Linked DNA regions of Homo sapiens. The protein of the gene in region 1 purifies or fractionates together with the protein of each later gene. This does not show direct contact. Each region holds a gene or a part of one and is shown in the gene's direction. Other genes may lie near its edges. The genes, in order: SBDS, TIAL1, EIF3A, MTCL1, MYBBP1A, RBM12 and HNRNPM.

Region 1 (3,669 bases):
CAGTGCTGATCATAATCCTAAAAGACAATCCCAAATGCCACAATCCCAATGTTGAAATCATAAAAAAATCAAAATCTCTAAAGTCCAAAGCCTGAACTTCTAATATCTTGAAAATCACAGTTCCAAAAGATTGAATCCTGGCTGGGCGCGGTGGCTCATGCCTGTAATCCCAGCACTTTGGGAGGCCAAGGCAGGTGGATCACCTGAGGTCGGGAGTTCGAGACCAGTCTGACCAACATGGAGAAACCCTGTCTCTACTAAAAATACAAAATAGTCTGGCGTGGTGGCACATGCCTGTAATCCCAGCTACTCGGGAGGCTGAGGCAGGAGAATCACTTGAACCTGGAAGGCAGAGGTTGCGGTGAGCCAAGATTGCACCATTGCACTCCAGCCTGGGCAACAAGAGCGAAACTCCATCTCAAAAAAAAAAAAAAAAGATTGAATTCTGAATGATGAAATTCTGAAAGCTGAATTCTGGCAAAAGGATTAGCACTCTTTGAGTTGTATGCAGGATAGTCGCGTCTGGTTAATTGCATCATGTGAGGAAAAGCTAGGACCTTGTTATTGTCTTCATTTGAAAATTAAAAATGGTTTAAAGAGATGAGTCTGGGTGCCAAGTTGATAAGGGGTGGAATTGTGGATGTAATTTTAGGTGTCAACTTGACTGGAAAGGAATCCCTAGAAGCCTGATAAAGCATTGTTTGGGGTATGTCTGTGAGGGTGTTTCCAGAGGATATTAGTGTGTGAACCTGGTGACACTAAACACAGAACATTTTAAAGAAGCAGCGAAACCATTATGTCCTTATGACCTCACCCCACAGCTTCAAACACAGTGTAAATTGAGCTGTCTACAAATTCATGTTTTCAAGGCTTTGCAGCTTATTTATTTATTTATTTATTTATTTATTTTTGAGACAGGGTTTCACTCTTATTGCCCAAGCTAGAGTGCAATGGCGTGATCTCAGCTCACTGCAACCTCTGCCTCCCGGGTTCAAGCGATTCTCCTGCCTCAGCCTCCCGAGTAGCTGGGATTACAGGCATGTGCCACCTCGCCCAGCTAATTTTGTATTTTTAGTAGAGACGGGGTCTCTCCATGTTGGTCAGGCTGGTCTCGAACTCCCGACCTCAGGTGATCCACCCGCCTCGGCCTCCCAAAGTGCTGGGATTACAGGCTTGAGCCACCGCGCCCTGTCTGCAGCTTCTTTTTAAAAGTAAATGAGCTGTAGAGAAGTGTTGAGTATGTGAGTATCCACTGTAGATGTGAACTAACTCATCTGACACTACTTGAAGTTCTAAAATCTTTGCAAAACTGTACACATGGGCCAGGCACAGTGGCTCGTGCCTGTAATCCCAGCACTTTGGGAGGCCAAGGTGAGCAGATAACATGGTGAAACCCTATCTCTACTAAAAATACAAAAAATAAGCCAGGTGTGGTGGTGGGTTCCTGTAATCCCAGTTTCTTGGGAGGCTGAGGCAGGAGAATCACTTGAACCTGGGAGGCGGAGGCTGCAGTGAGCCAAGATCACACCACTGCACTCTATCTCAAAAAAAAATAAATTAACATACACATGGTGTCTACATAAGTCTTCACATTGCTTTTTCTCCTTCATACGTGGAGGTGACTTTACTGAGCTATAAAATGTAATGCTAAATTTTAGTATGAGAAGAATCAGAGTTTTCTAGTTTGTCCCTTCCATTTACAGCTGAAGAATCAGAATAAGTGTTTAAACATAGGGATTAATGCCTTGTCACAGGGGGCTACATGGACACTTGAGGGCAGAGGCTAAACTGGAACCCAGTGTGCCGCCCTACCCATTGTCTTATCTATTGCACCATAGAACTGTGGTATTATTAGAGATCTGGACAGCATTGTGCTTGCCTCAAAGGAAGTTAAAGCTGAGTTTATTCTGTGTCTTGCTCATCCTCATGTGGTAATCTGCTACGTTAAATGTTTCAGGTATGTCTGATTGACCCGGGCTGCTTCCGAGAAATTGATGAGCTAATAAAAAAGGAAACTAAAGGCAAAGGTTCTTTGGAAGTACTCAATCTGAAAGATGTAGAAGAAGGAGATGAGAAATTTGAATGACACCCATCAATCTCTTCACCTCTAAAACACTAAAGTGTTTCCGTTTCCGACGGCACTGTTTCATGTCTGTGGTCTGCCAAATACTTGCTTAAACTATTTGACATTTTCTATCTTTGTGTTAACAGTGGACACAGCAAGGCTTTCCTACATAAGTATAATAATGTGGGAATGATTTGGTTTTAATTATAAACTGGGGTCTAAATCCTAAAGCAAAATTGAAACTCCAAGATGCAAAGTCCAGAGTGGCATTTTGCTACTCTGTCTCATGCCTTGATAGCTTTCCAAAATGAAAGTTACTTGAGGCAGCTCTTGTGGGTGAAAAGTTATTTGTACAGTAGAGTAAGATTATTAGGGGTATGTCTATACAACAAAAGGGGGGGTCTTTCCTAAAAAAGAAAACATATGATGCTTCATTTCTACTTAATGGAACTTGTGTTCTGAGGGTCATTATGGTATCGTAATGTAAAGCTTGGATGATGTTCCTGATTATCTGAGAAACAGATATAGAAAAATTGTGCCGGACTTACCTTTCATTGAACATGCTGCCATAACTTAGATTATTCTTGGTTAAAAAATAAAAGTCACTTATTTCTAATTCTTAAAGTTTATAATATATATTAATATAGCTAAAATTGTATGTAATCAATAAAACCACTCTTATGTTTATTAAACTATGGCTTGTGTTTCTAGACAACTTCCTAACTCCCTTTCTTTTCTCTGCCTGTGTCTGTGGTAGGGTTAGGGAGTTGTCAGGAGAACTGAATAAGTCCATATGAAGAGTGCTTAGAACAGGGCCTGTACTTGTAAACACCTGAAAAATTTTTGCTAACACTTGGGATGTAATTGGGAAGAATTATTTTAGTATTTAAACACTTAAATGGACAAGATGCAAGCTTTTAAAAATCTACTTCAAGGCCAGGGGAGGTGACTCACACCTGCAATCCCAACACTTTGGGAGGCCGAGGCAGGCGGATCACCTGAGGTCAGGAGTTTGAGACCAGCCTGACCCACATGGTGAAACCCTGTCTCTACTAAAAATACAAAAATTAGCCAGGCATGGTGGTGCACGCCTGTAGTCCCAGCTACTCGGGAGGCTGAAGCAGGAGAATCACTTGAACCCAGGAGGCAGAGGTTGCAATGAGCTGAGAATGTGCCACTGCACTCCAGTCTAGGTGACAGAGTGAAACTCGGTCTCCAAAAAAAAGAAAAAAAATCTATTTCAAAAGATACATTCTAGAATATAAATTAAATTCACTCAAAATAAACATACAGATGTATTTCTGGACAGCAGTTTTTAACTGAAGACAGGCTTCTTGACTTGAAAAGGTACTGATTGGTTTATAAGCACACACAACTCCCTGCTAATACAAGCTCTCAGAAATGTCCCTTTAGTTTAAAATAACTAACATTGAGGTTATAAAGTCAAAATTTTTTCTTATATTGTTAACAAAATACATTGATAACATGGGAATGAACACTTTTTCTGTTAATGCTAAAGCTAGGCTGCTGTTTTGATACAGCTATTTGTTCAATATATCAATAGTTCTATCTTAGTAAAAAAATATAAACATTTAATAGAACAT
Region 2 (4,465 bases), on another chromosome or scaffold:
TTTTTTTGTGACTATTAGATATAGAAGGTAACTAATTCCAATACAGTTTTTCCTGAAGAAATTGATGTTTAAACAGTAATGGAAATTTAAAACTATTTAAATCATTTAAAATGTGTTATATTAAAATGATAATTCTATTTTAATTTTGTTATTAGCTAGCTTCAATATGTGAAAACCAGTTTTATCCATCCTTCTTTTCTCTTAGAAGTGAGCTAACTAGCCCTTTAGGCAAGGAGCATAATGTTTAGAAGCTCAAGATCACTTGTTCGTTTCTTTCTTTCTTTCTTTCTTTCTTTCTTTCTTTCTTTCTTTCTTTCTTTCTTTCTTTCTCTCTTTCTCTCTGTCTCTCTCTCTTTCTCTCTTTCTTTTTTATTTATTTTTTTGAGATGGAGTCTCACTCTGTCGCCCAGGTTGGAGTGCAATGGTGCAATCTCGGCTCACTGCAACCTCTGCCTCCCAGGTTCAAGCGATTCTCCTGCCTCGGCCTCCCGAGTAGCTGGGATTATAGGTGCGCGCCACCATGCCCGGCTAATTTTTGTATTTTTTGTGGAGACAGGGTTTCACCATGTTGGTCAGGCTGGTCTCAAACTCCTGACCTCATGATCCGCCTGCCATAGCCTCCCAAAGTGCTGGGATTACAGGCGTGAGCCACCATGCCTGGTCACTTGTTCATTTTTCTTACAGATAGGTCTACTCTGTACAAAAAGAAATCATTTCAGAGATACAGGCTCACAAACCCCTATGAGTTAAGAAGGGGCAAGCAGCCTATCGCTGGCTCATAACCCAATAACCTTTTAGTCCTGCTGGAAAAAGTATGTCACTACATTGGCCTGCTGATGGATCAGCTCCTTAATTACGTGGAAAAGGTGGCATAGTGGACGTAAAACAGTTTGTCACTTGTTTAGTCCTCTAGTTAGGTAATATTGGATGTGTGTTTCAATTTTAGAGCAGGTACACTAAGATTATTAGTACTCATTGCAATAAAATTCTTAACTGGAAAATCGCTACTAATTCTTAATTGGATCTTTTAAGTTTTTTACTTAACCTAAGCTTTCTCAGTCTATTTTTCCCTTTGAGTATTCCATCTTAAAGCATGTTGTGTATTTAATGTGGCAGCTATGTTGCAAGTCTTATTTTGGTCTTAATACTCAGTTTCCAGATGTAATATATTACAAGTAGAAAAAGAAATCTACTTTCCAGAATGAACTTTGTTAAATTTTACAGATATTGTTTGGTTTATGAGGTTGTTCATAACAGATGCAAATTTGAGGAATTATGTGTAGAATACCAGAAAGACTTTAGTGTTTGGCAATTTATTTAGATAAATTAAGATAAATCCATAGTACAAGACATAAACCAAGGTGGTCCTCTCTGTGTGATGAAGTAGCATTTTTTTCTTTTCTTTTTTAAACTTTCCTGTATTTAAAATCTTTTACACAAAACACATTCAATTGTAATTAGGAAAAAAAACCCAAATTTTTAAGTGTCCATAGTCAAAAGTATGCCTGGATTTGTCTTAGTTTTTCTCTGAATTTCTTAAGAAATCTTTGTATTAGCTTTTTTATCTACATTAAGATATATTTTGTTGGCTGGGCATGGTGGCTCACTCCTGTAATCCCAGCACTTTGGGAGACTCAGGCAGGTGGATCACTTGAGGTTAGGAGTTTGAGACCAGCCAGGCCAACATGGTGAAACCCCGTCTCTACTAAAAATACAAAAATTAGCCGGGCGTGGTGGTGCACGCCTGTAGTCCCAGCTACCTGGGAGGCTGAGGCAGGAGAATCGCTTGAACCTGGGAGGCGGAGGTTGCAGTGAGCTGAGATCATGCCACTGCACTCCAGCCTGGGTGACAGAGTGAGACTCCATCTCAAAAAAATACATATATATTTTGTTGATTCTGATGCATTTTAGACTAGGAAATTTTATATTTTACCCTGCTCTCCTAAAATGAAACAGTGAAGACATCATTGCAAACAACCTTACTCAGCCAAAAACAAAACAACAAAAACCCTCCACCCTCTGTATGTTTTACTATAACTTTAATTCTGTTCTTTGTTCATGTAATTGCTTTGGTTGGGAATCTAAGATAAACTCACTTTATGTTTAATATCCTATTACAATCAGATGTTTTAATGAATTAGTATTTGTTGTATGTGTGTGTGTGTTATAAATTATTTTTAATTAGAAATTGTAGTTATCTTGAGACCAGTTTAAAATTTTAACAATTAGAATAAGATGAGAAAATGATATCCAGGGTACAGAATAATAATGCCATTGGGGTATACAAGATCACATTGATTTGTTCTTTAAATGTCTTTCAGAGTGGTATTTTAGTGGCCTAAGAACAATTGTTGCTTTCCTAAATAAGGGTTAATCTTACTTTCATAGGATCAGGTTTAATTGGAGAAATTTTGTTGAAAACAGAGGAAGTTAAAATGAAATAAAAGGTGGCCGGGCGCAGTGGCTCACGCTTGTAATTCCAGCACTTTGGGAGGCCAAGGCGGACAGATCACCTGAGGTCAGGAGTTCAAGACCAGCCTGACCAATACGATGAAACCCTGTCTCTACTAAGAATACAAAAATTAGCCAGGCATGGTGGCATGCGCCTGTAATCCCAGCTACTTGGGAGGCTGAGACAGGAAAATCGTTTGAATCTGGGAGGCGGAAGTTGCAGTGAGCTGAGATCATGCCATTGCACTCCAGCCTGGGCAACAAGAGCAAAACTCCATCTAAAAAAAAAAGAAAGAAAGAAAGAAAGAAAGAAAAGGTGATGAATTAGATGATAACACATTAGAGCCAGAGCTAAAGGAAAAATTGCTGATAACGTATTTTTTTCTTGTGCAGATACGTAGGTAACCTTTCCAGAGATGTGACAGAAGTCCTTATACTTCAGTTGTTCAGTCAGATTGGACCCTGTAAAAGCTGTAAAATGATAACAGAGGTAAGATCTTCCCAGTTCCATGTGCTGACAATTAGCATGATGGGTTGATTAGCATGATTTTAAAATTTCATTGTAAGCCTCAAGTTATTCTGGTGGAGAGATTTGTGTTGTGTTGACTTATTACTTTGATTTGGCTGACAAACTAGGCTTAGAATGGAGTTTTATTTAAGAGGGCAAAGTTTCCGTGCTGTTAAGCTCAAACGGTCATTCTTCATGGTGTGGTTATCTTGAAGTGATTCTGCTTTCAGAACATTATTAGAGCTCATTTCAGAATGGTGAAAAATTGGAAAGTATTTCATACAATTCCAATAAGAATGTTAACGATTTAGACAGCATGTGTTCATGTGCGAGAACACGAAGTTATTATGTGTGTAGTGTGCAGCACCGTTCGTCTCGTGTGTCTGTAGCAAATACTTACCTTTTTATACTTTCCTGCTAAGACTGTAGCAGCACCCAATTAGTCATGTTTTAGGCTTTTCTTCCTTGTGTTTTTGTTCATTGATCAGCTTTCTTTTTTTTTTTTGGACTATTTCCTATGTACTAGATACTGCAGTAAGTGCTAGAGATACACTGGTGAATAAAGATAGTTCCTTGGCCCAGAGAATTTTACAGTTTAGTAGGGAGACAAAGGAGTTAGCAGGCACTTAGGAAGTAGGATAATAAATGCTCTAGAAGCAGACAACTTAAAGTGCTGTGGGAGCAAATGTGTATCCAGTGCAGCCTTAGGTCAGTGAGCGGCTTCTTGGAGGACTCACTGCCTAGGCGGAAACCTTGAAAGGATAGTAGTACATACTGGCTAGAAAGGAATTGAGGGAAGAAGGGATTCCAAATAAAGGGAACTTTGATCCAGGTTGGTAGGGAGAGCAGGAGTGCTTGAGACAGAGAGGGAAAAATAGAACCCGTAGCATGGTTGTAGTTAAAATGGAATTAGTCGTAAGAGATGGCAGGAGTTTATGGAAAGGGCTAGAAACTGTGCTAAAGAGTTTGTTTTATCCTGAAACGGAGAACTGTTAAAAACCTTTAAAGTGCATTGGCCTTTTGATTGTCTTTCCCAAGTAATGACAATCATCATTTTGTTCTGGTGTATTATATTTTTCCTTCCTGCCTTTAATTATTTATTTGTGCTTTCATCGATCAAAAATTTCCTTTGCACTAGGCACTATACAAGGTACTGGAGATATAATGGAGAGACAGCCAAATGAGTTTCCCAAGCAAATAGGGATGTAAGCCATGAAGAGAATAAAACAGAGTTCTGTGATGATTGGAGGGTTGGTGCTATATAGGCTAGGTGATGAGAGATGTCACCTCTTTGAGCTGAGATGAATAACAAGATGGTGCTATCTATGGTAAGAGCTGGAGGCAGAGGAAACAGCAAATACAAGTCTTGAGTTGGTAATGAACTTGTGTTTGTGGAATCAAAGACCGATGGCTAGAGTCTGGTGAGGGATGGAGGGGAGTTAAGGGAAATGAGTCTAACAGCAGGATTCAGAATCACAGGACATTATGGTCCATGACATAGTTTAG
Region 3 (4,465 bases), on another chromosome or scaffold:
TCACTACAGCCTCAACCTCCCTGGGCTTAGGTGATCCTCCTGCCTCAGCCTCCTGAGTAGCTGGGACCACAGGTGCGCTCCACCATGCCTGGTTAATTTTGTTTGTTTGTTTCTTTGTTTTTGAGACAGAATCTAGCTCTGTCACCCAGGCTGGAGTGCAGTGGCGCGTTCTCGGCTCACTGCAGCCTCCGCCTCCTGGGTTGAAGCAATTCTTGTGCCTCCCAAGTAGCTGGGAGGCACTTGTAATCCTCCCAAGTAGGATTACAGACATGCACCACCACGCCTGGCTAATTTTTGCATTTTTAGTAGACCCGAGGTTTCACTATGTTGGCCAGGCTGGTCTTGAACTCCTGACCTCAAGAAATCTGCCTGCCTCGGCCTCCCAAAGTGCTGGGATTACAGGTGTGGGCCACTACGCCTGGTGAATTTTTATATTCTTTATAGTGATGGGGTTTTGACATGTTGCCCAGGCTAGTCTCAAACTCCTGGGCTCAAGCAATCCTCCCGCCTTGGCCTTCCAAAGTGCTGGGATTACAGGTGTGAGCGACTGTGCCCAGCCGCATGTCTTACAATTAAGTAGAGATGGGTTTTGCCAGGCCAGGCTGGTCTTGAACTCCTGACCTCAGGTGATCTGCCTGCCTCTGCTTCCCAGAGTGCTGGGATTAAAGGTGCGAGCCACTGCTCCGGCCCATACTGAAGTTTTTAAAAAGCATGTGAAAAAAAAAATCCCCAAAGGATCATATGCTTTTTTATTTTATATATTTTTAATTGTTCTTGTTGCTGTGTAGGGAGTGGAGACGTGGAGAAGGGCGAGATGAGGACAGGTCTCATAGAAGAGATGAAGAGCGGCCCCGGCGTCTGGGGGATGATGAAGATAGAGAGCCCTCTCTTAGACCAGACGATGATCGGGTTCCCCGGCGTGGCATGGATGATGACAGAGGCCCTAGACGTGGTCCTGAGGAAGATAGGTTCTCTCGTCGTGGGGCAGACGATGACCGGCCTTCCTGGCGTAACACAGATGATGACAGGCCTCCCAGACGAATTGCCGATGAAGACAGGGGAAACTGGCGTCATGCGGATGATGACAGACCACCTAGACGAGGACTGGATGAGGACAGAGGAAGCTGGCGAACAGCTGATGAGGACAGAGGACCAAGACGTGGGATGGATGATGACCGGGGGCCGAGGCGAGGAGGCGCTGATGATGAGCGATCATCCTGGCGTAATGCTGATGATGACCGGGGTCCCAGGCGAGGGTTGGATGATGATCGGGGTCCCAGGCGAGGCATGGATGATGACCGGGGTCCCAGGCGAGGCATGGATGATGACCGGGGTCCCAGGCGAGGCATGGATGATGACCGGGGTCCCAGGCGAGGGTTGGATGATGATCGAGGACCTTGGAGGAACGCCGATGATGACAGAATTCCCAGGCGTGGTGCAGAGGATGACAGGGGCCCTTGGAGAAACATGGATGATGATCGCCTTTCAAGACGTGCTGATGATGATCGGTTTCCCAGACGGGGTGATGACTCAAGACCTGGTCCTTGGAGACCATTAGTCAAGCCAGGTAAAATTCTATTTCCTAGAATATGCTTAAGTGTTCACCTGTAAAAGTGAAATTCTGATGGATAAATATCAGGGCTGTATTGTTATTTTCCAGATAAACTGGTCTTTCATCTTTCCTTCAGTATCATTTGCAGTGACTTCGCTGTCAAAAGTTTGCCTTCAGAATACCACCATCCAAAACATAAATAACCCAACCCCTCTCTTCTTTAGTGATGTGCTCTTTGTTTTCCTTCTGCTTCGATGACTGCTTCTTTGAAGGCTCTTCCTGTACTCATGCTTTCAGTATTGGTGTATTTTTCAGGTTTTACTGGGAACCAGCCTCCTTTTAAAAATAAATAATTGAAACCAAAATGTACTTTATATATTTATTTTTGCCAACTGAGAGATTATGCAAGGAGGAACTCATTTTACTTTACTTTTTTTGAGACAGGGTCTTGCTCTGTTGCACAGGCTGGAATGCAGTGGTGCAGTCATGGCTCACTGCAACCTTGACCTCCCGGACCCTAGGGAGCCTCCCACTTCAGCCTTCTGAGTAGCTAGGACTACAGGCGCATGCCACCACACCCTGCTAATATTTTATTTTTTGGAGAGACGGGGTTTCGCTATGTTGCCCAGGCTGGTCTCAAACTCCTGGGCCCAAGTTATCCTTCTGCCTCTCCCTCCCAAAGTGAAGTGCTGGGATAACGGGTGTGAGGCGCTGCGCCCAGCCTCATTTTTTTTCTTAGTCCTGGGCCTGCTTATTGTTTCACACTTTATTATTCGTGAGCAGTTGTATACATGTTTGTGACATGCGTCTATTACCATTTTTTTTCTTTTTGAGGTGGAGTCTTGCTCTGTCTCCCAGGCTGGAGTGCAGTGGTATGATCTCAGCTCACTGCAACCTCTGCCTCCCAGGTTCAAGCAATTCTCCTGCCTCAGCTTCCCAAGTAGCTGGGACTACAGGCACATGCCACCATGCATGGCTAATTTTTTTTTTTTTTTTTTTTTTTGGAGACGGAGTCTCGCTCTGTCATCTGGCTGGAGTGCAGTGGCGCGATCTCCCCTCACTGCAAGTTCTGCCTCCCAGGTTCATGCCCTTCTCCTGCCTCAGCCTCCTGAGTAGCTGGGACAACAGGTGCCTACCACTATGCCTGGCTAATTTTTTGTATTTTTAGTAGAGATGGGGTTTCACCATGGTAGCCAGGATGGTCTCGATCTCCTGACCTCTTGATCCGCCTGCCTCAGCCTCCCAAAGTGCTGGGATTACAGGCATGAGCCACCACGCCCGGCCATTTTTTTGTATTTTTAATAGAGATGGGGTTTCACCATGTTGGCCAGGCTGCTCTCGAACTCCTGACCTCAAGTGATCCACCCACCTCGGCCTCCCAAAGTGCTAGGATTACAGGCGTGAGCCACTGCCCCGGCCAGTTTTCTCTAGGTAATTTCTGCGTACTGCACACAGGTGACAGCTGCTTACTGCATATAGCACATCTCCACTTGGTAGTCTTACTGAATGTCTAACACAGCCTATCCAAAACTGGACTCATTACCATCACATACACGTGCACTTGTTCACGCCCACCCATCCCTCTGATTCTCTTCAGGGGCATCACTGTCCATCTAACTGTCTGAGCTAGGATTCTGGGAGTTGTTTTGTCTCTGTTTCATCCTTTATGTTAAATCTTTAGTTCAGTTCTGCCTTTTTGATGTTCCTGAAATCCACCCTCCTCTCCATTCCCATTGCTTGTACTTGGTCCTGGGTCAGCATCATTTTCCTCACCCGCTAACTGGTTTTTGCTGCCTCTCTTACTCCCAGTTTTAATTTTGGGTGTCAGGGAAATAACCAGAGCAGTTGTTGTAAGTGCAGATCTAAGTGAGCTGCTTCCTTGCTTTCCCCAGTTGTTTCTGTTGCCTACTTCGTCTCTTCTAGTCTCACTTCATTCTGCTGTTCGGCTGTTACCTTGTGTAAGACATTTAATTTTTCTTTTCCTCATGTTAAATGGGGTAACAGTATAGCAGATTCTTACTAATTTGCTAATTATATTTTATACAGTTGCCATGAATACTGAACTCATGTTCCTAGGGTAAATACAAGGTTAGGTTCTTGTAAGCTTCTAGTCATGATATTTTTGTCAACCAATCAATACATAAAATGTCTTTTATGTGTTTGTGTTTAAAGACTCCCTATTTCTGATATGTTGTTGATTCATTACCATTGAATTCATGGTCAACAGCATTATAACTCATTCATGAACAAAGCTTATCTAATACATGTATTTTCTCCTTAAGGCATATCATAGCCACCTTGTGCTTGGGGCCACTAAACAGCATTTGTTTTTTCTCTTTTTGAGGTGGGGCCTCACTGTCTCCCAGGCTGGAGTGCAGTGGCGTGATCTCAGATCACCGCAACCTCTGCCTCCTGGGCTCAAGAGATCCTACCACATCAGCCTCCTGAGTAGTAGACTATAGGTGCACACCACCAAGCCCAGCTAATTTTTGTATTTTTTTGTAGAGATGTGGTTTTGCCATGTTGCCCAGGCTGGTCTTGAACTCCTGGGCTCCAGGGATCCACCCTCCTCAGCCTCCCAAATTCCTGAGATTACAGGCATGAGCCACCACGCCTGGCCACTAGACAGCATTTTAGCACTACACTTGGAGGCCATTTTAAACAGTGAGGTCACCAGCAAATTTACATCTCTATATGTACTGTATATAAAATGTTCCTAGATTCATATATTCCATGCATAAGTGTGAGCCACTGTGCAGGGTTAAAGGATTTATTCATGATTAATGACTAGATAATGGGTGGCAAATGGTGGAGGACAGGAATATAAAAGGAAAGATTGTTTTTTGGATATGAAGGGCTTGAAAACGTTGCAAGGTATAAATACCTCAAAATTGGGACTCAGAGAAAACTCTT
Region 4 (4,465 bases), on another chromosome or scaffold:
GCTGGGTCAAATGGTATTTCTAGTTCTAGATCCCTGAGGAATCGCCACACTGACTTCCACAATGGTTGAACTAGTTTACAGTCCCACCAACAGTGTAAAAGTGTTCCTATTTCTCCACATCCTCTCCAGCACCTGTTGTTTCCTGACTTTTTAATGATTGCCATTCTAACTGATGTGAGATGATATCTCATAGTGGTTTTGATTTGCATTTCTCTGATGGCCAGTGATGGTGAGCATTTTTTCATGTGTTTTTTGGCTGCATAAATGTCTTCTTTTGAGAAGTGTCTGTTCATGTCCTTCGCCCACTTTTTGATGGGGTTGTTTGTTTTTTTCTTGTAAATTTGTTTGAGTTCATTGTAGATTCTGGATATTAGCCCTTTGTCAGATGAGTAGGTTGCAAAAATTTTCTCCCATGTTGTAGGTTGAACCCAGGCACTTTCTTAATGCTGAGGACTTTGGTAAAGCGCTGGTGTGTTCCTTCCCTGCCAGGCTGCCAAGACTGTGTTTTGCTCGAGTGCTCGGAGACAGTCAGACAAGCCGGAGTGCTCGTTGTCAACATATTAATTATGTTCTCTGTTTCCACAGGCTTTTCAGGAGGATTTAATCAGTTGGCATTTATGAGCCTATTTTGAAAATGCTTTTAGCAGCCATAACCCCACACCTCCCCCACCCCCAAATAGTGTCCTCTTGCCATGCTGACCTCCTGCAGGGTGGGTGAGGATTGGGGTGGGAAGAGCTGTTTCTTTTTGCTTTGCTTTGCTTTCTCAGTTATTTCATAGGAAATATTTTTCTGTTAAAAGAAAACAAGTTGGTGCTAGATACAAGGGCAGAGAAAATTGGCTTCTTGGAGAGGAATGATTTCCTAAGGGAGAGGTTGAGTTTTGGTTTTATAGGTTGCAGTGTCTCACTGCTGATCCAAGCTTACCATCCTGCTTCTCATTGGAGTTAGCCTTTTGAGTTTCAGGCCCTGACCTGGTTTTTGACATTTGGCAGCTGGGCTGCCCAGATGCCGGGTGCTCAGTGTGGCCTGGGGGTGGAGGGGCACTTGGAGAGGAGCGCAAGCAGTGCTCTGTAGCTGAGGTGTCTCAGCGCCTCCTTGCTCCCCGCCTCCTCCTCCTTTCTCTTTCAGAAGGGTTAACATGGACAGTATTCCCCATTCTTTCCTGACATTCGCTGTCCATACCCACTCTGTATTCAGCCACTGAAAGAGTGGCTATGATCATTTTCAGTGGCAGTTAATGTAGACAAGGGCTGCGGCCACCAGCTGCTGGCTGGACCATCACCTGGTAGACAGTGGGAGTCGCCCTGCACCTCCTTAGTTACAGCTGGGACTCTTGGAGAACATTTCCCTTGTCTGGAGGGAAATGAGGTGGATTATTCGTATGTTACAAAAGACAGTAGTTTCTGTCTGCCCAGAAGATAGAATTATTGCAGCAGTAGCCAGAGGACTCCTTCTACCATCCAAACTGGGTCTATTTAAAGAGGAGGTGCTAAAATAGAGATAGTTACTGATTTTGGGTATTTAAAAGAGATTAAGATTTTCATATAGTTATTAACATGATTAAGAGTTTTCATCACTTATACTAAGAAGCCATGGATTTGACTTTTATTATATATTCATGGATAAAACTATCCTTTTAGAGGTTTTCATTAAAACATATAATTTTAATCTTGGTTTACTCTAGTGCACACCTGGTACCTCATTATTCCTCTAATTTGAGATACATGATAAGGCTTGATTTGTCAGCCACAGGCAAAGGGGAATAGTCGACTGGACTTCACAGTACTTCAAGATTTCGTTTTATATACAAAACTTTAAAAAGGTATTTAATTAAAACTAGCTTTTCAATGAGATAATGATTTAATACTTAAGTATCCTCCAGACTTGATGTTAATTCAGTAAAAAACTATTAAGGACAGCTTTTTCTTATTTCCGTGTATAAAAAGACAACAGCGATTTTCCAATTTTATGTACTATCTCTAAATTACACCTGTCAGAAACATCATATGCTCTGCTCGATTTGGTTTACTTAAATTTTTAGTTGGCAGATGTCATTAAGGTTCTGCAATACAGTTTTCTAAATTGGAGCATGCCGTCAGAAAATTAATGTAATGTTAGTTTGAAAATCACTATCCATCATGACCCTAATTCCAGTAATCATAGTTTTTGCTTTTCAGATGGCTGCTGCCAGCTTACATGGTTTATAATTTGCTTGTCTTTAACTTCTTTTCACTGAACCTGAAAATTACTTTTTTCTAGGCTCTCTGGGAAGAGTTGAAACACTGGCCCTGGTCCTATTGCTGCAGCAGACCAATAATGGTGGAAAGCCATTTATACTTTTAGAATCTCAGTTTCCTCGTTTTAAAGATGGGAGTATTAGCCAGGCATGGTGGCATGTGCTTGTAATCCCAGCTACTCAGGAGGCTGAGGCAGGAAGATCACTTGAGCCCAGGAGCTCAAGGTGGCAGTGAGCCATGGCTGCACCACTGCGCTCCAGGTTGGGTCACAGAGTGAGACTCTGTCTCTTTAAAAAAAGCGGGGAAGGGGCACGGATATCTTTACCGCACGTTGCAGTGTCTTCCTAAGAACCAGTTGCCCTAATGGATATGCTTTGTGTCGTCACTTGTCGAGCTGTAAATGTTAGGCTGCTTTTTTTGTTTTACACTGATGGTGGACTTTTAAAAGTACAATTGAAGGTCTGTTATTGTTTCATTTGTCCAGGTTGAAGCAAATAATTTATGGTATTTACTCGAAAGAGTGTGTGATTGAAAGCAGACAGGCCTGGGTTTGCAGTGTGGCTTCAATTTACTAGATGTGAAGCTTTGGACACAGGTAACTAGCCTCAGTTTTGTTTTTTTGTCTATCAACTGCATAATGTGTTCCTGACAGGGTTATTGTAGGGTTAGTAATGAGGGTGAGGTGCTTAATAAACGACGCCTGTTCTGTAAATTTAGGTAAAATATGAATTATAAGAGCAGTGATTTAAATACATGCCGTTATGGTGCATTGGTCCATTTTTATACTTCTGTGAAACACTAGACTGGGTAATTTATAAAGAAAAAAGGGTTTAATGGACTCACAGTTCCACATGGCTGGGGAGGCCTCACAATCATGGTGGAAGACAAAGGAGGAGCAAAGACACATATTACATGGAGGCACGTAAGAACGTGTGCAGGGAAACTGCCGTTTATAAAACCATTAGATCTCTCTTGAGACTTACTCACTGTCACGAGCAGCAGAGGAGAAACCCGCCCCCGTGATTCAGTTACCTCCCACTGGGTCCCTCCTGTGACACGTGAGGATTATGGGAGCTACAGTTCAAGATGAGATTTGAGTGGGGACACAGCCAAACCATATCATATGATCTCTCCCTAATTTTCTTTTCTCTTTTTTTTTTGAGGTGGAGTCTCACTCCATCGCCCAGGCTGGAGTGCAGTGGCGCGATTTCCACTCACTGCAAGCTCCACCTCCCGGGTTCACGCCATTCTTCTGCCTCAGCCTCCCGAGTAGCTGGGACTACAGGTGCCCGCCACCACGCCTGGCTAATTTTTTTTATTTTTAGTAGAGACAGGGTTTCACTGTGTTAGCCAGGATGGTCTTGATCTCCTGACCTTGTGATCCGCCCGCCTCGGCCTCCCAAAGTGCTGGGATTACAGGCGTGAGCCACCGCACCCGGCCCCTAATTTTATTTGCAGTACAACTAATGTTGGTGATTATTTGTGCCAAAAAATATTGCTATTTACATCTGGTCTGCTCAATGATGTGGAGGTGTGGGTGCATCTAGCCCTTGAACAGTTTTCATAGCCTGTAACATCTGTATGAAAATGCAGCATTTAACATTAGGGTGGATGTGGGCTCTCCAGTTGCAAAGTCTGAAAGCTAGAGACATTTTATACCTGGAAGCTGTATCTTGCATCTTAGGGCTATATTGCATTTTAAAAACTTTTGTCTTAGTTGCCGATAATCCCAGGCATTAATGACTTTGGCAGGCTTTCTGGAAAGAAAAGCAATCACAAACCATTCTTTCCATGAACAGAATGGCCAGAGTCACTGTATATTTGTATGTGTGGATATACATGTACATATACATATACAGATATTGACTTAGTGTTGAACATTTAGTGATTATTGCTTGTATTGAACTGATTTGTATTAATGACTCAGTGAAACAATTAACCTCTTTACTCAGAAACAAGCATTGCGGTTAGGTTCTTTCTCAAAGTCTGATCCATTAGTTTCATGGATGGGGTGTGAATCAAACTTGACGTTGATTTTTGAAGATTCAGAACTAACTTCCCACTCTATCGAAAGAGTGACAACCACAAGGCTCATTTTAAAGCTTTCAGTCTCCAGTTGACCTCCTCTAGGAGTGGGTAGTGCAGGGGCACAGCTCCCATAGGGCGTCTTCAAAGCCTCAGTGATCAGGCATCAGTAACAACCTCCTGTTTGTGGAAGGTTTGCAGA
Region 5 (4,465 bases), on another chromosome or scaffold:
GGGAGGCGGAGGTTGCAGTGAGCCAAGATCACACCACTATACTCAGCCTGGGTGGCAAAGTGAGACTCTGTCTTAAAAAAAAAAAATAAGGGGTGGGGGGCAGGTACCTCCAGGGGCCAGTTAGCGTCAGTGGGATGCTTGTCAAAAACCCCGCTGCCTGGGAATTTGAGTTTTGTTAGCAACTGGCCTCTGATGACTCTGATACCTCACCAGGTGGCCCCGTGTCAGGAGCAGGTAGAACAGGATCCACCAGGCTCACCCCGCAGAGGAAGTCACGATTTCTTCTCCCTCCATCCTTAGGTCTCGAAGGCCACATTGCAGGAGATCCTGCCGGAGGTCCTCAAAGCCGACTTGAATATAATACTCAGCTCCCCTGAACAGCTAGAGCTCTTCCTCCTGGCCCAGCAGAAGGTGCCCTCCAAGCTCAAGAAGCTGGTGGGATCCGTGAACCTATTCTCAGATGAGAATGTCCCCAGGTGTGATGGAGGTGGGCGGATTTGCCCTCCCTGGGGCCAAGGGACTGCATCTGGCCAGGCCCAGATTTGTCGTTTGGCCTGGGGGTGTCCCGGCTGCTCTTGTCACCCTGGCCCTTGCCTGTGAGGCAAGTGTTCCCTGAGTCCCTTGCCCTCCGCAGGCTGGTGAATGTGCTGAAGATGGCCGCCTCCTCTGTGAAGAAGGACCGCAAGCTGCCCGCCATTGCTCTGGACCTGCTCCGCCTGGCACTCAAGGAAGACAAGTTCCCACGGTTCTGGAAGGAGGTGGTGGAACAAGGGCTGCTGAAGATGCAGTTCTGGCCAGCCAGGTGCGGGCGACGCGTGTCCTCTCTCGGCCCCCTTCCCTGTCCGTGAAGTGGGCTAGGCCACTAGTCCTGAGGTTCCCACCAGGGGCACCAAGGGCTCTGACCAGGCTCTGTCCTGCACCCCCTTTAGCTACCTGTGTTTCCGCCTGCTGGGCGCGGCCCTGCCCCTGCTGACCAAGGAGCAGCTGCACCTGGTGATGCAGGGAGACGTGATCCGCCATTACGGGGAGCACGTGTGCACTGCTAAGGTGGGTAATGCCCGTGCAGCTCGACACTGCCAGAAAGGCTAGACGTGGAGCTCTCCCTGCCAAAAAGGGGAGCAGGGCACCTCGGGGGCTTGGCTAGAGCTATGGGTGTCCCCTCCGTCTGGGTAGTGAGCTGCCTGAACCCCTTTCCCTCGGACAAATTTTTTTTTTTTGAGATGAAGTTTTGCTCTTGTCGCCCAGGCTGGAGCGCAGTGGTGAGATCTTGGCTCACTGCAACCTCCGCCTCCCAGGTTCAAGCGATTCTCCTGCCTCAGCCTCCTGAGTAGCTGGGATTACAGGCGCCCAATACCACGCCCAGCTAATTTTTGTATTTTTGGTAGAGACGGGATTTTGCCATGTTGGCCAGGCTGGTCTCGAACTCCTGACCTTAGGTGATCCACCCGCCTTGGCCTCCCAGAGTGCTGGGATTACAGACGTGAGCCACTGTACCTGGCTTCCCTCTGACAGTTTTGATAAAGTCAGGCCCTTCTGCCAGCAGGCCCCCTTGTGGGCATGGATAGCCAGCGGGCTGTTCAGACCTCTCTCCGCCCCCGCCCATGTGGCAGTGATGAGAACAGTCGTCATGACCATGTTTGGGCACCAGTGAGCCTGGTGCCCAGTAAGTGCTGCTGGGTTGACTGTTCTCACCAGCTCATTTTATCTTTGCAGTGAGTTTCAGAGAGCTGTCATTCTGGGTGAGGGGGAGACTTGAAGTATCAGGCAGTGGTTAAGAGCTTGGGTTGGATGGTGGTGCACACCTGTAGTCCCAGTTACTCGGGAGGCTGAGGTGGGAGGATCCCTTGAACCCAGAATTTTGAGGCTGCAGTGAGCCATGATCATGGCACTACATGCCAGGGGCACAAGTCTAAAAAATTGAAAGGAAAACAGCTTGGGCTGTGAAGCCGGACACTATCCCACTGGGAGCCTCTGACCCTGAGAAGTTACCTCTAGGTGTTTTTGTGTCTCACTGTACTCACCTGTGCAATGACAATATTGGCCAACCGCAAAGAGTTGCTAAAAATGCTAAGCTGCCGCCCAAAAAGGCGGAGCGCGGGTGCTGGCACTGAGTAAGCGCGTGAGAGGTGGTTGTTTTTGGTCCCGAAGATGACACGGCTAGGAATTGGCAGCGTGGGCTTTGAACCCAGGTCAGTCTCGCCTCCTAACTACCACTCTGCCCTGCGTTGAGCCAGGAAAACAGGCCATCCCCATCCAGCAAGGCGGAAAGAGGGGCCTTCTGGGGCCGGAGGTGCTGAAGCTGGGGCAGTCAGACCCACAGAGGCCTTGACGCCAGACAAAAGCACTGGGGTGACTGGACTGTTGCAAGTTCAGGCACAGCCTAGCTGTGTACAACAGGAGATTGCCGGGGCTCGATTTAACCTGTAGTGGGCACAAGCCTGGTGGGCTGTTGCCCGCCTGCCCCCGGGCTGTTGGGCTGTTGGGCTGTTGCCCGCCTGCCCCCTTGGCTGTTGGGTTGTTAACCGCCTGCCCCCCTGGGCTGGTGGGCTCAGCGCCATGCCTAACTCTTGCAGCTCCCAAAGCAGTTCAAGTTTGCCCCAGAGATGGACGATTACGTGGGCACCTTCCTAGAGGGGTGCCAGGATGACCCTGAGCGGCAGCTGGCCGTGCTAGTGGCCTTCTCATCTGTCACCAACCAAGGCCTCCCTGTCACGCCTACTTTCTGGCGGGTCGTGCGGTTCCTGAGCCCTCCGGCCCTGCAGGGCTATGTGGCCTGGCTGCGGGCCATGTTTCTCCAGCCAGACCTGGACTCCTTGGTTGACTTCAGCACCAACAACCAGAAGAAAGCCCAGGATTCATCGCTCCACATGTGAGTGGACCTTGGGGGAGGACACCTAATTTAGGAGTTAACTTCCTAGGCCTGCAGAGCCCCGCGACCCAAGCCCGCCCTCCACAGCGTCCTGGCTCTAAACCATGAGAGGAGCGAGGGGGAAGAGCCTTAGCTCTCATATGAGGCCTCAGTTTACTTGTGTGTCCCCACACTGGCGATCGGGATGGGGAGATCTTGGAGTGTTGTCTCTGAGATCAGGCAAAGGAATGTCCTGTTTTTGCTGGTTCTTTTTTTTTTTTTTTTTTTTTTTTGACAGAGTCTCACTCTCTGTGGCCTAAGCTGGAGTGCAGTGGCGTGTGATCTCAGCTCATTGCAACTTCTGCCTCCCGGGTTCAAGCAATCAAGTGATTCTCTGCCTCAGCCTCTCCAGTAGCTGGGACTACAGGCACCCGCCACCACACCCAGCTAATTTTTGTATTTTTAATGGAGATGGGGTTTCACCGTGTTGGTCAGGCTGGTCTCGAACTCCTGACCTCGAGTGATTGGCCAGCCTTGGCCTCCCAAAGTGCTGGGATTACAGGTGTGAGCCACTGGGCCCAGCCTGTTTCTGCCAGTTATAAGTGGCTCACATGACCTCGCCTCCTGCCCCGCTAGGCCTGAGCGAGCTGTGTTCCGGCTGAGGAAATGGATCATCTTTCGATTGGTGAGCATTGTGGACAGCCTGCACCTGGAGATGGAGGAGGCCTTGACTGAGCAGGTGGCCAGGTGCGAGCTGTGCTGGATTCCCAGCTTCCCATGGGCGTGTGGCCAAGGAATGGGGCCCCTTAACTCGTCCTAGTTTGCATCCCCTGGAGCCAGAAGCCTTTGGGTTGAGTCATCAGTGGGGGGCAGGCACAAGGGGACTTGGGAATTCCTCAGGAACCCGTGAAGGGAAGGGGCCCAGGAGGCACCCCAGCTGCAGGGGCCTAAAAGGTTCAGGTGTGCTCTGCGCGCCCTGCAGGCAGCTTTTGCACGTGGGAGGTGTCAGGGAAGCCTTCTGCCCCACACCTGCCTCGTCTGTGCCAGTGCAGAGCTGGGTGCTCACGTCACCCTCAACATGCACGGTTGCAAGAGGGGGCTGTCCCATGTTCGCAGGAGCAGTGACCTGACTTGGCCATGACCACACAGCCTCCCATCTGTTGGTTCCTTGAGAGGGGCACTGACTCTCTCTAGCTCGGGTTAACCCGCGTTCAGCTGGGGATCCAGAGCAGAGAAACGGCCCCTTCCCATCCTAGCCCAGCCCAGCCCCCTCCAGCCTTGCCCGTCAGGCCCCCGAGGACTGTACCCAGGGCAGAAGGGCGGCTCCTCCTCCTCCTGGCCTTGTACCCTCGGTGGTACCATCCAAGGAGGGGAGCCTGTAAAAACCAATGGCAGTGAATGGCTATGGCCACTCTCCCACCCTCCCCAGGTTTTGTTTGTTCCACTCGTTCTTTGTCACAAAGAAGCCCACATCCCAGATCCCTGAGACAAAGCACCCGTTCTCCTTCCCTTTGGAAAACCAGGCCCGAGAGGCTGTCAGCAGTGCCTTCTTCAGGTGAGTCTTGGGCAGCCCAGGAGAGGTCCGAAGGTGGGAAGGCCTTGAGGGCGCCTGCTCCC
Region 6 (4,203 bases), on another chromosome or scaffold:
GTGGTCTGAATGATGTATATGTATTTTACTGTCCTACAGTTGTTTTTTCTTGAACTTTTTGAGTCTTGGGACTGAACTGTTTCCAAAATTAATGCCTTCTGGAAGTTGAAATTGTCTACGTTTTACATTGTAAATGGCACGTAATGTTCAGTTTTTAGAATATCTAAATTAAAGACATTGCCTGTGATAGCTTGAGGGAATATTTGAGGGCCTAATATGGTAGCTGGTCATTCTTGTAGCTAAAAACTTGGTGTGATAAACAGGAGTCTGACCTGGCCGTTGCCTTTTCTCATCTGCAGGTGTGTGTGGTTTCAGCGCAGCATGGCTGTGGTCATCCGTTTGCAAGGTCTCCCAATTGTGGCGGGGACCATGGACATTCGCCACTTCTTCTCTGGATTGACCATTCCTGATGGGGGCGTGCATATTGTAGGGGGTGAACTGGGTGAGGCTTTCATCGTTTTTGCCACTGATGAAGATGCAAGGCTTGGTATGATGCGCACAGGTGGTACAATTAAAGGGTCAAAAGTAACACTATTGTTGAGTAGTAAGACGGAAATGCAGAATATGATTGAACTGAGTCGTAGGCGTTTTGAAACTGCCAACTTAGATATACCACCAGCAAATGCCAGTAGATCAGGACCACCACCTAGCTCAGGAATGAGTAGCAGGGTAAACTTGCCCACAACAGTATCCAACTTTAATAATCCATCACCCAGTGTAGTTACTGCCACCACTTCTGTTCATGAAAGCAACAAAAACATACAGACATTTTCCACAGCCAGCGTAGGAACAGCTCCTCCAAATATGGGGGCTTCCTTTGGGAGCCCAACGTTTAGCTCAACTGTTCCAAGCACAGCCTCTCCAATGAACACAGTCCCGCCGCCACCAATTCCTCCAATTCCAGCGATGCCATCTCTGCCACCAATGCCATCCATTCCCCCAATTCCAGTTCCTCCTCCAGTACCTACATTGCCTCCTGTGCCTCCTGTGCCCCCGATTCCCCCAGTTCCTTCTGTGCCACCCATGACCCCACTGCCACCCATGTCGGGCATGCCGCCCTTGAATCCGCCACCTGTGGCACCTCTACCTGCTGGAATGAATGGCTCTGGAGCACCTATGAATTTGAACAATAATCTGAATCCTATGTTTCTTGGTCCGTTGAATCCTGTTAACCCTATCCAGATGAACTCTCAGAGCAGTGTGAAGCCACTCCCCATCAACCCTGATGATCTGTATGTCAGTGTGCATGGAATGCCCTTTTCTGCAATGGAAAATGATGTCAGAGATTTTTTTCATGGGCTCCGTGTTGATGCAGTGCATTTGTTGAAAGATCATGTAGGTCGAAATAATGGGAATGGATTGGTTAAGTTTCTCTCCCCTCAAGATACATTTGAAGCTTTGAAACGAAACAGAATGCTGATGATTCAACGCTATGTGGAAGTTAGCCCTGCCACAGAAAGACAGTGGGTAGCTGCTGGAGGCCATATCACTTTTAAGCAAAATATGGGACCTTCTGGACAAACTCATCCCCCTCCTCAGACACTTCCCAGGTCAAAATCGCCCAGTGGGCAGAAAAGATCAAGGTCAAGATCACCACATGAGGCTGGTTTTTGTGTTTACTTGAAAGGGCTACCATTTGAAGCAGAAAACAAACATGTCATTGATTTTTTTAAAAAGCTGGATATTGTGGAAGATAGTATTTATATAGCTTATGGACCCAATGGGAAAGCAACTGGCGAAGGCTTTGTAGAGTTCAGAAATGAGGCTGACTATAAGGCTGCTCTGTGTCGTCATAAACAGTACATGGGCAATCGCTTTATTCAAGTTCATCCAATTACTAAGAAAGGTATGCTAGAAAAGATAGATATGATTCGAAAAAGACTGCAGAACTTCAGCTATGACCAGAGGGAAATGATACTAAATCCAGAGGGGGATGTCAACTCTGCCAAAGTCTGTGCCCACATAACAAATATTCCATTCAGCATTACAAAGATGGATGTTCTTCAGTTCCTAGAAGGAATCCCAGTGGATGAAAATGCTGTACATGTTCTTGTTGATAACAATGGGCAAGGTCTAGGACAGGCATTGGTTCAGTTTAAAAATGAAGATGATGCACGTAAGTCTGAACGCTTACACCGTAAAAAACTTAATGGGAGAGAAGCTTTTGTTCATGTAGTTACCCTAGAAGATATGAGAGAGATTGAGAAAAATCCCCCTGCCCAAGGAAAAAAGGGATTAAAGATGCCTGTGCCAGGTAATCCTGCAGTTCCAGGAATGCCCAATGCGGGACTGCCCGGTGTGGGACTGCCCAGTGCAGGACTTCCCGGTGCAGGCCTGCCCAGCACAGGACTGCCTGGTTCAGCAATAACCAGTGCAGGACTGCCTGGTGCGGGAATGCCCAGTGCAGGAATACCTAGTGCAGGAGGTGAAGAGCATGCCTTCCTGACTGTAGGATCAAAGGAAGCCAATAATGGGCCTCCATTTAACTTTCCTGGTAATTTTGGTGGATCAAATGCCTTTGGGCCACCAATCCCTCCTCCAGGATTAGGAGGCGGGGCCTTTGGTGATGCTAGGCCTGGTATGCCTTCAGTTGGAAACAGTGGTTTGCCTGGTCTAGGACTGGATGTTCCGGGTTTTGGAGGTGGACCAAACAATTTAAGTGGGCCATCGGGATTTGGAGGGGGCCCTCAGAATTTTGGAAATGGCCCTGGTAGCTTAGGCGGTCCCCCGGGGTTTGGAAGTGGCCCTCCTGGTCTTGGAAGTGCCCCTGGGCATTTGGGTGGGCCACCAGCTTTTGGGCCTGGCCCCGGCCCCGGCCCCGGCCCTGGCCCAATCCATATTGGTGGTCCCCCTGGCTTTGCATCTAGTTCTGGAAAACCAGGACCGACAGTAATTAAAGTGCAAAACATGCCCTTTACTGTGTCTATTGATGAGATTTTAGATTTCTTTTATGGCTATCAAGTAATCCCAGGCTCAGTGTGTTTAAAATACAATGAAAAAGGTATGCCCACAGGTGAAGCCATGGTGGCCTTTGAGTCTCGGGATGAAGCCACAGCTGCTGTCATTGACTTAAATGACAGGCCTATAGGTTCAAGAAAAGTAAAACTTGTATTAGGGTAGCCATTCACATCATTTTTTATAGGGTAGATCTTCATATTGCTGTGATTAATGCATCCAGATTGTTTTCCTAGTATTTCCAGGTTAGAACCTGTGGATTGTTTCAATTGCATATAGCTTGGTTTCCATAACATAGAGCATTGGTTGACTGTTTACAGAAGACTCACTCACCAGGATAAACATTGCTGTATGTTACAGTAAAGCTATCTGGAGAGAACACATAAATGATTTTGGCATACCATTAGAGAAACCATTTGTAAAACTCAAATGACCACATAAAGCTTATCAAGGAGTCTAGATTGGTTTTGTTTTATACCATATGGGATGAAGAAAATAGAAATGTCAGTAGAACTCATTGAGGGTGCTCTTGCCAGCTGCTGAAAATAGAAGTTGGCTACTCTCAGAATTTGGTTTAAAGCTGGACAGATTTGCTTTGTTATAGGGTAAAGCTTTGTCTAAAGTCCTCATTTTCTTTTAAAATTGAATAAAATTTCTGTATACAGATTCATTGTATGTACCTTTATTGCTTCTTAAGGGTCCTTGCTGTATAGACAGTCCTGCTTCAGAAGTTGCTGCTTTGTTTGTCTAATTGACTCATTTGTAAATGAGCAGAACTGTTTTGTTGGTTTTTTTCCCTAAATATAAAAGTCCACACTTCGTTTGTGCTATAACCTCAAACTTTGATTTCTAATGTCACACTTAAAACTGTGTGGAATAAGACTTTTGCCATAAAAATAAACTATGGAGTCCTTTATCTACCAGAGCCTTTTTGGTTTGACCGCCACGATTTAGGTTAGTCAGTTTAAAAATTGTTCATGTTGTTTGGATGGTATCGAAAACCAGAAACCACTTTTAATAATGTGTTTAAGATACTTGATTTGAAGTCCTTTTCATATGGACTAATTGTAGTATCAATTTCCTCCTGTCCCGATTATGTGAAATTTTGGCCTTTAAACAAAGAGGGGCCCATTCATAAGAAAGTGTTATATCTAGGTTTTTAAAACTGAAGTTGAAATTATCTTTGTTAGCAGTAGTAGTATAGAATAAAAGATCCGTATGCTGGTTCGTAGATTGATACGTGTTAGT
Region 7 (4,465 bases), on another chromosome or scaffold:
ACTGTTTAGATACAAAATCTGAGCCCTAAATTTGAATTTATTTGTGTCCTTTAAATGGGGAGGTTTAGAAAGCGGCAAGAATGAAGCCTGGCCTAATTCACTGAAGAGAATCCAGATGCTGCTCTGGTTTTGTGATCTTATTATATTCAAACATTCTGCCTCTACAGATGTGGAGCCTAGTGCTGTGTGCAGGACCAGCTATAGAATTTGTGGGGCCCAACACAAAACGAAAACAAGGGGCCTCTTGTTAAAAAAAAAAACTAAGAATGTCATGGCAGCGATAACAGCATTAAACCAAGCTCAGGGCCCCTGAGTGCGGGGCTCTGTACAATTGCACGAGTTGCTCACCTGTGAAGCTGGCCCTGCGGCCGTGTGTGCCTGTGAGCTTATACCTTCGCATACGTGCGTCCTTGTATTTATAGCATGTGAGCTCAGCCCGATGGCATCGCAATTTGTATGCATTTCACCTGCTTGCCACCAATGAGAGCGTATGTGTAAAACCTCCTCCCTTCCCCAGAAAAGTAAATCACGCAGACTTCTTTCCTATAGATTTGGATTGCCTCTAGTCATGAATGAGTCTTCCAGACAGGGAAATTGATACGGAAATCTGTGGAATAGCTTGTTTGTGGTGGGAGGAAAATCAAGGACATATTGTTAACGTGTTTTCACCTACTTTTACTGCACACCTGTAATGCCTAGTTCGGTGGTTTAGAGAATATGGAGTGTTTCTGGGCTTTCTTATAAGGCAGAGGCTCCATACAAGGTTGCTGATGATTGTTCTAAATTCCCATTGTTTTCTTGGCTTTTCTCCCTTGGTTTATGTGTCGTCTGGAAACTGATTTGTAGTTGGTGAGGTAACATACGTGGAGCTCTTAATGGACGCTGAAGGAAAGTCAAGGGTAAGTGTCTGAGAGAATTTCTTCTGTGGATTTACTACATGAAAAATGTAACTGTATGGTGGCGTGGAATCGAATGAAATCAGGAAGGCAGTGAGTGCTCATGTTACAGTAGCTATGTTTGATTTTGCCAAACATTTGAGTGGGGTGGGAGGGGATTTGCAAATGGGAGTCCCGCTTTTCCAAATGGCTGGCCAAAGAGCTTTTTGGTATTCTGTTTGGATGCCCAATTTGGATAACTGGGGACCAATAGCAGCATTGTCTCTTTGTTAACAGAGGAATTGGCTGTGTGTGAATTATGCATGGAATTTTAGCGGTGGTATAATTAATGTAAAACGTGTGTTCTTGTCTAGAAAATGTTACTCTTGGTTGTTTGCTGAATTTGAAAGTTGTGTGAACCAAAGATTCCGAAAAGTTGCCTTTGTGCCAGTAAATTGTAAACCAAATATTAAAAACCTGAATGTTCAAAATTGGCCTAGTTTAAAGAGAACATAAACTATTTTCTGTCGTGCAATAGAATGGCTTAGAATAATCAAAAGGATGAGCTTAACTTACGGAAGGGATGGATTTAGGAGGAATATGGTAAGGACTCGATTGAGTACAGAGGGAAGCAGATCTAAAGTTGGTGTGATTTCTTGGAGACCCTGAATTTAGGTCTGCTTATTAAATGTCAGCAGCTCTAGTGCAATGCTGGTAACGCGTAGGAGAAGGAGATATTAAGGAGCCCAGCTTTTAACAAGGAAGGCGAGGCGAGGCACTTCTGTCAGCTTCCCCTTAGAAGGGTTCATTTTAAAAGACTAACTTTGTGACATAAATCATATTTTTAGTTTGTTTATAACTGTCATTGATATTTACTATTTTTTTCTTTTCTTTTTCCCCTTCCTTGCTCTTCTGACTGGTCTCTGGCTTCCTCCAAAGGGATGTGCGTAAGTATCGTCTAGTTACTTATTGGTATTTGAGCCTTCTAACTTGTAGGACTGGTTTCACTCGACTCGTTTCCTTTTGACTCTATAGTGTTGTTGAATTCAAGATGGAAGAGAGCATGAAAAAAGCTGCGGAAGTCCTAAACAAGCATAGTCTGAGCGGAAGACCACTGAAAGTCAAAGAAGTAAGCTCTTGCTTAACACTGCGGATACTGTGTGTAATTGTTGAGTGATCCTACTTTGGAATTAGGGAAAGACGGTCATGGTCCCAGACGGCATTTACAAAGCAAGTGCCAGCCTGTTGTTTCTAATGAAGAGTGTCGGTCATAGCCTACAGCAGCCATTCCCTGCAAGGACTTTGGGGTGGTGGCCAAGCAGATCCTGAGTGGCTGCTGACCACCTTCTAATATCTGTGATTTGTCTGAGGCCTTGTTGTCTCAGGGACTCTCAAACCATGAGCCCGTGGGTTTGTGCCATTAAGTTTTACTCCATCTGACCCTTCTTCTTGGCCCATCTTTTTTCTTTTTTTAAAAAGTGAGTTTGTTCCAGCCTGGGCAACATGGTGAAACCCCCTCTCTACAAAAGGTACAAAAATTAGCCAGGCATGGTGGCGCATGCCTGTAGTCCTAGCTACTTGGGAGGCTGAGGCAGGAGGATCATTTGAGCCCAGGATGTGGAGGTTGCAGTGAGCTGAGATTGCACCATTGCACTCCAGCCCGGGCAACAGTGAGACCCTGTCTAAAAAATAAAAAAATAAAGTGAGTTTGTTATTCCTCAAACCTGCTTTCACATCTCATCTGAATCAAATATATTCCTTGAGGAAGAAGGTTTTTTTGTTGATTAAATCCCTCTTGGCTGGGCGCAGTGGCTCACGCCTGTAATCCCCAGCACTTTGGGAGGCTGAGGTGGGTGGATCAAGGTCATGAGTTCAAGACCAGCTTGACCAACATGGTGAAACCCTGTCTACTAAAAATACAAAAAATTAGCTGGGCGTAGTGGGGGGTGCCTGTAATCCATCTACTCGGGAGGCTGAGGCAGGAGAATCGCTGGAACCCAGGAGGCGGAGGTTGCAGTGAGCCGAGATCGCGCCATTGAACTCCAGCCTGGGCAGTAAGAGCAAAGCTCTGTCTCAAAAAAACATCCCTCTTAACTTCTTTTCACCTCTTCTCTTGGGGAGGAAGATGAGTAGATTCAGAGTGAAGCTTGGTAGGGTCTAAGGTCTCTCATGTGTTATGATGTCTTTTTTAGTGCTGATGGTGGTAATTGACAGGACAGAGAGTTGAAGAAGAGAGTCAGTACAGAGCTTCACAGACCTTCCCAGATGTTGTTTTACTGCGCAGCCCTCACACACACGCCTCCAACACCTGAAGGACTTGAAGGATGGGGGCGCTTGTGTGGTCTAGAACTGTTTCTCAAACTTCTGGAAGCCATTGACGGGGTTTGCAGAAGTTACAAAACCCCATTGATGAATTAGTAAGATTCAGCTATACCAAGCCCATGAAGCTCTAATTTCAGTCTGGCGGTTCTACATTATATCAGCTAATCATGTTTCCCTCCCTACCCTGCTTTTCTTTTTTACTTAGTGCAATTGAGAGCTGTGTTTTTAGTGCTACACTTCATGCCTTTTCTTCCTTTCCTATTTCTTTAGCTGGACTCTTCTAAGCTGGTAGTTGAGTTCATTTGACTTTCTTGTTAATAGATTTGAGAGATGCTTTCCAAACAACCTTTCAGTTTCTAAGTCTTGAGAATATCATTTACTGTGCAAGCATGGTTTGCGTTGTACTGGGTCAGTTAAACGTAACACCTTTTGTGCTTGTTTTAGGATCCTGATGGTGAACATGCCAGGAGAGCAATGCAAAAGGTGATGGCTACGACTGGTGGGATGGGTATGGGACCAGGTGGCCCAGGAATGATTACTATCCCACCCAGTATCCTAAATAATCCCAACATCCCAAATGAGATTATCCATGCATTACAGGCTGGAAGACTTGGAAGCACAGTATTTGTAGCAAATGTAAGTAAACAGAACCATCGTCTAAAGTAGAAAATCAGAACTTTATGAAATGACCTTGTCAATATGTTATAAAAGTAATTCTCACATTTGAGAAGAAAAATGTAAAGAAGGGTTTTGTTCTTGATTTCTTTAAAAATCAGCCTTATAGGCGGGCTTTGTCTGCATTCCTAAGTCACAGGCTTGACCGTGGTCTCGTTGGGGCTGTGATTCCTGAGTTTCGCAGGTGTTTCCGCAAGCAGTAACCGAGTCTGCATTCTCCGTTGGTTTATTTTATGCAGTTTTGGTGCAGAGTAAGACTGTACGAGCAGAAGTGCACTGACACCTTCCTCTTGTTGTGTCTGGGGTGAATGATAATACCTCCACCATCTGCAAGGGGAAATATTTTTAGAATAAAGTAGGTTGGGTGGGGTGGGGAGTGGTAAAGCTTATCAGGGAAACAATTTTTTAAAAATGTTCAGAAAATGAGTATTAATTTGAAGTATGAGGTGACTTAAGTTTCTGAGAAAAGAGACAATATATTTACTATAGGTACAGTTTATTTACAGTGAAGGCCAGGCTTTATAATCCTATTTTAAAATTTCCATTGCAGTTGATTAGTTTTTGTGACATTATTTCCTAATACTTTTTTCCAA

What was found.
Region 2: the proteins of SBDS (region 1) and TIAL1 fractionate together in Homo sapiens (co-fractionation; one large-scale study listed by BioGRID). This does not show direct contact.
Region 3: the proteins of SBDS (region 1) and EIF3A purify together in Homo sapiens (affinity purification with mass spectrometry; one large-scale study listed by BioGRID and IntAct). This does not show direct contact.
Region 4: the proteins of SBDS (region 1) and MTCL1 purify together in Homo sapiens (affinity purification with mass spectrometry; one large-scale study listed by BioGRID and IntAct). This does not show direct contact.
Region 5: the proteins of SBDS (region 1) and MYBBP1A purify together in Homo sapiens (affinity purification with mass spectrometry, with the first as the bait; one study listed by BioGRID). This does not show direct contact.
Region 6: the proteins of SBDS (region 1) and RBM12 purify together in Homo sapiens (co-immunoprecipitation; one large-scale study listed by IntAct). This does not show direct contact.
Region 7: the proteins of SBDS (region 1) and HNRNPM purify together in Homo sapiens (affinity purification with mass spectrometry, with the first as the bait; one study listed by BioGRID). This does not show direct contact.

What each region holds. Positions count from the first base shown.
Region 1 is NC_000007.14:66,986,788-66,990,456, reverse strand, and holds the end of SBDS (ribosome maturation protein SBDS), read left to right. Parts: intron 1-1,957; coding exon 1,958-2,086; 3' UTR 2,087-2,777; downstream 2,778-3,669. UniProt on the Homo sapiens protein: Required for the assembly of mature ribosomes and ribosome biogenesis.
Region 2 is NC_000010.11:119,586,628-119,591,092, reverse strand, and holds part of TIAL1 (nucleolysin TIAR), read left to right. Parts: intron 1-2,844; coding exon 2,845-2,941; intron 2,942-4,465. UniProt on the Homo sapiens protein: RNA-binding protein involved in alternative pre-RNA splicing and in cytoplasmic stress granules formation. Shows a preference for uridine-rich RNAs.
Region 3 is NC_000010.11:119,039,096-119,043,560, reverse strand, and holds part of EIF3A (eukaryotic translation initiation factor 3 subunit A), read left to right. Parts: intron 1-788; coding exon 789-1,567; intron 1,568-4,465. UniProt on the Homo sapiens protein: RNA-binding component of the eukaryotic translation initiation factor 3 (eIF-3) complex, which is required for several steps in the initiation of protein synthesis.
Region 4 is NC_000018.10:8,711,417-8,715,881, forward strand, and holds part of MTCL1 (microtubule cross-linking factor 1), read left to right. Parts: intron 1-2,725; exon of another isoform or gene 2,726-2,833; intron 2,834-4,465. UniProt on the Homo sapiens protein: Microtubule-associated factor involved in the late phase of epithelial polarization and microtubule dynamics regulation.
Region 5 is NC_000017.11:4,548,462-4,552,926, reverse strand, and holds part of MYBBP1A (myb-binding protein 1A), read left to right. Parts: intron 1-300; coding exon 301-476; exon of another isoform or gene 477-487; intron 488-634; coding exon 635-802; intron 803-929; coding exon 930-1,047; intron 1,048-2,573; coding exon 2,574-2,869; intron 2,870-3,484; coding exon 3,485-3,595; intron 3,596-4,277; coding exon 4,278-4,403; intron 4,404-4,465. UniProt on the Homo sapiens protein: May activate or repress transcription via interactions with sequence specific DNA-binding proteins. Repression may be mediated at least in part by histone deacetylase activity (HDAC activity).
Region 6 is NC_000020.11:35,651,441-35,655,643, reverse strand, and holds part of RBM12 (RNA-binding protein 12), read left to right. Parts: intron 1-299; 5' UTR 300-321; coding exon 322-3,120; 3' UTR 3,121-4,203. Other genes in the region: CPNE1 (copine-1), read left to right, coding at 2,102-2,116.
Region 7 is NC_000019.10:8,461,683-8,466,147, forward strand, and holds part of HNRNPM (heterogeneous nuclear ribonucleoprotein M), read left to right. Parts: intron 1-846; coding exon 847-899; intron 900-1,814; coding exon 1,815-1,822; intron 1,823-1,910; coding exon 1,911-2,004; intron 2,005-3,641; coding exon 3,642-3,833; intron 3,834-4,465. UniProt on the Homo sapiens protein: Pre-mRNA binding protein in vivo, binds avidly to poly(G) and poly(U) RNA homopolymers in vitro. Involved in splicing.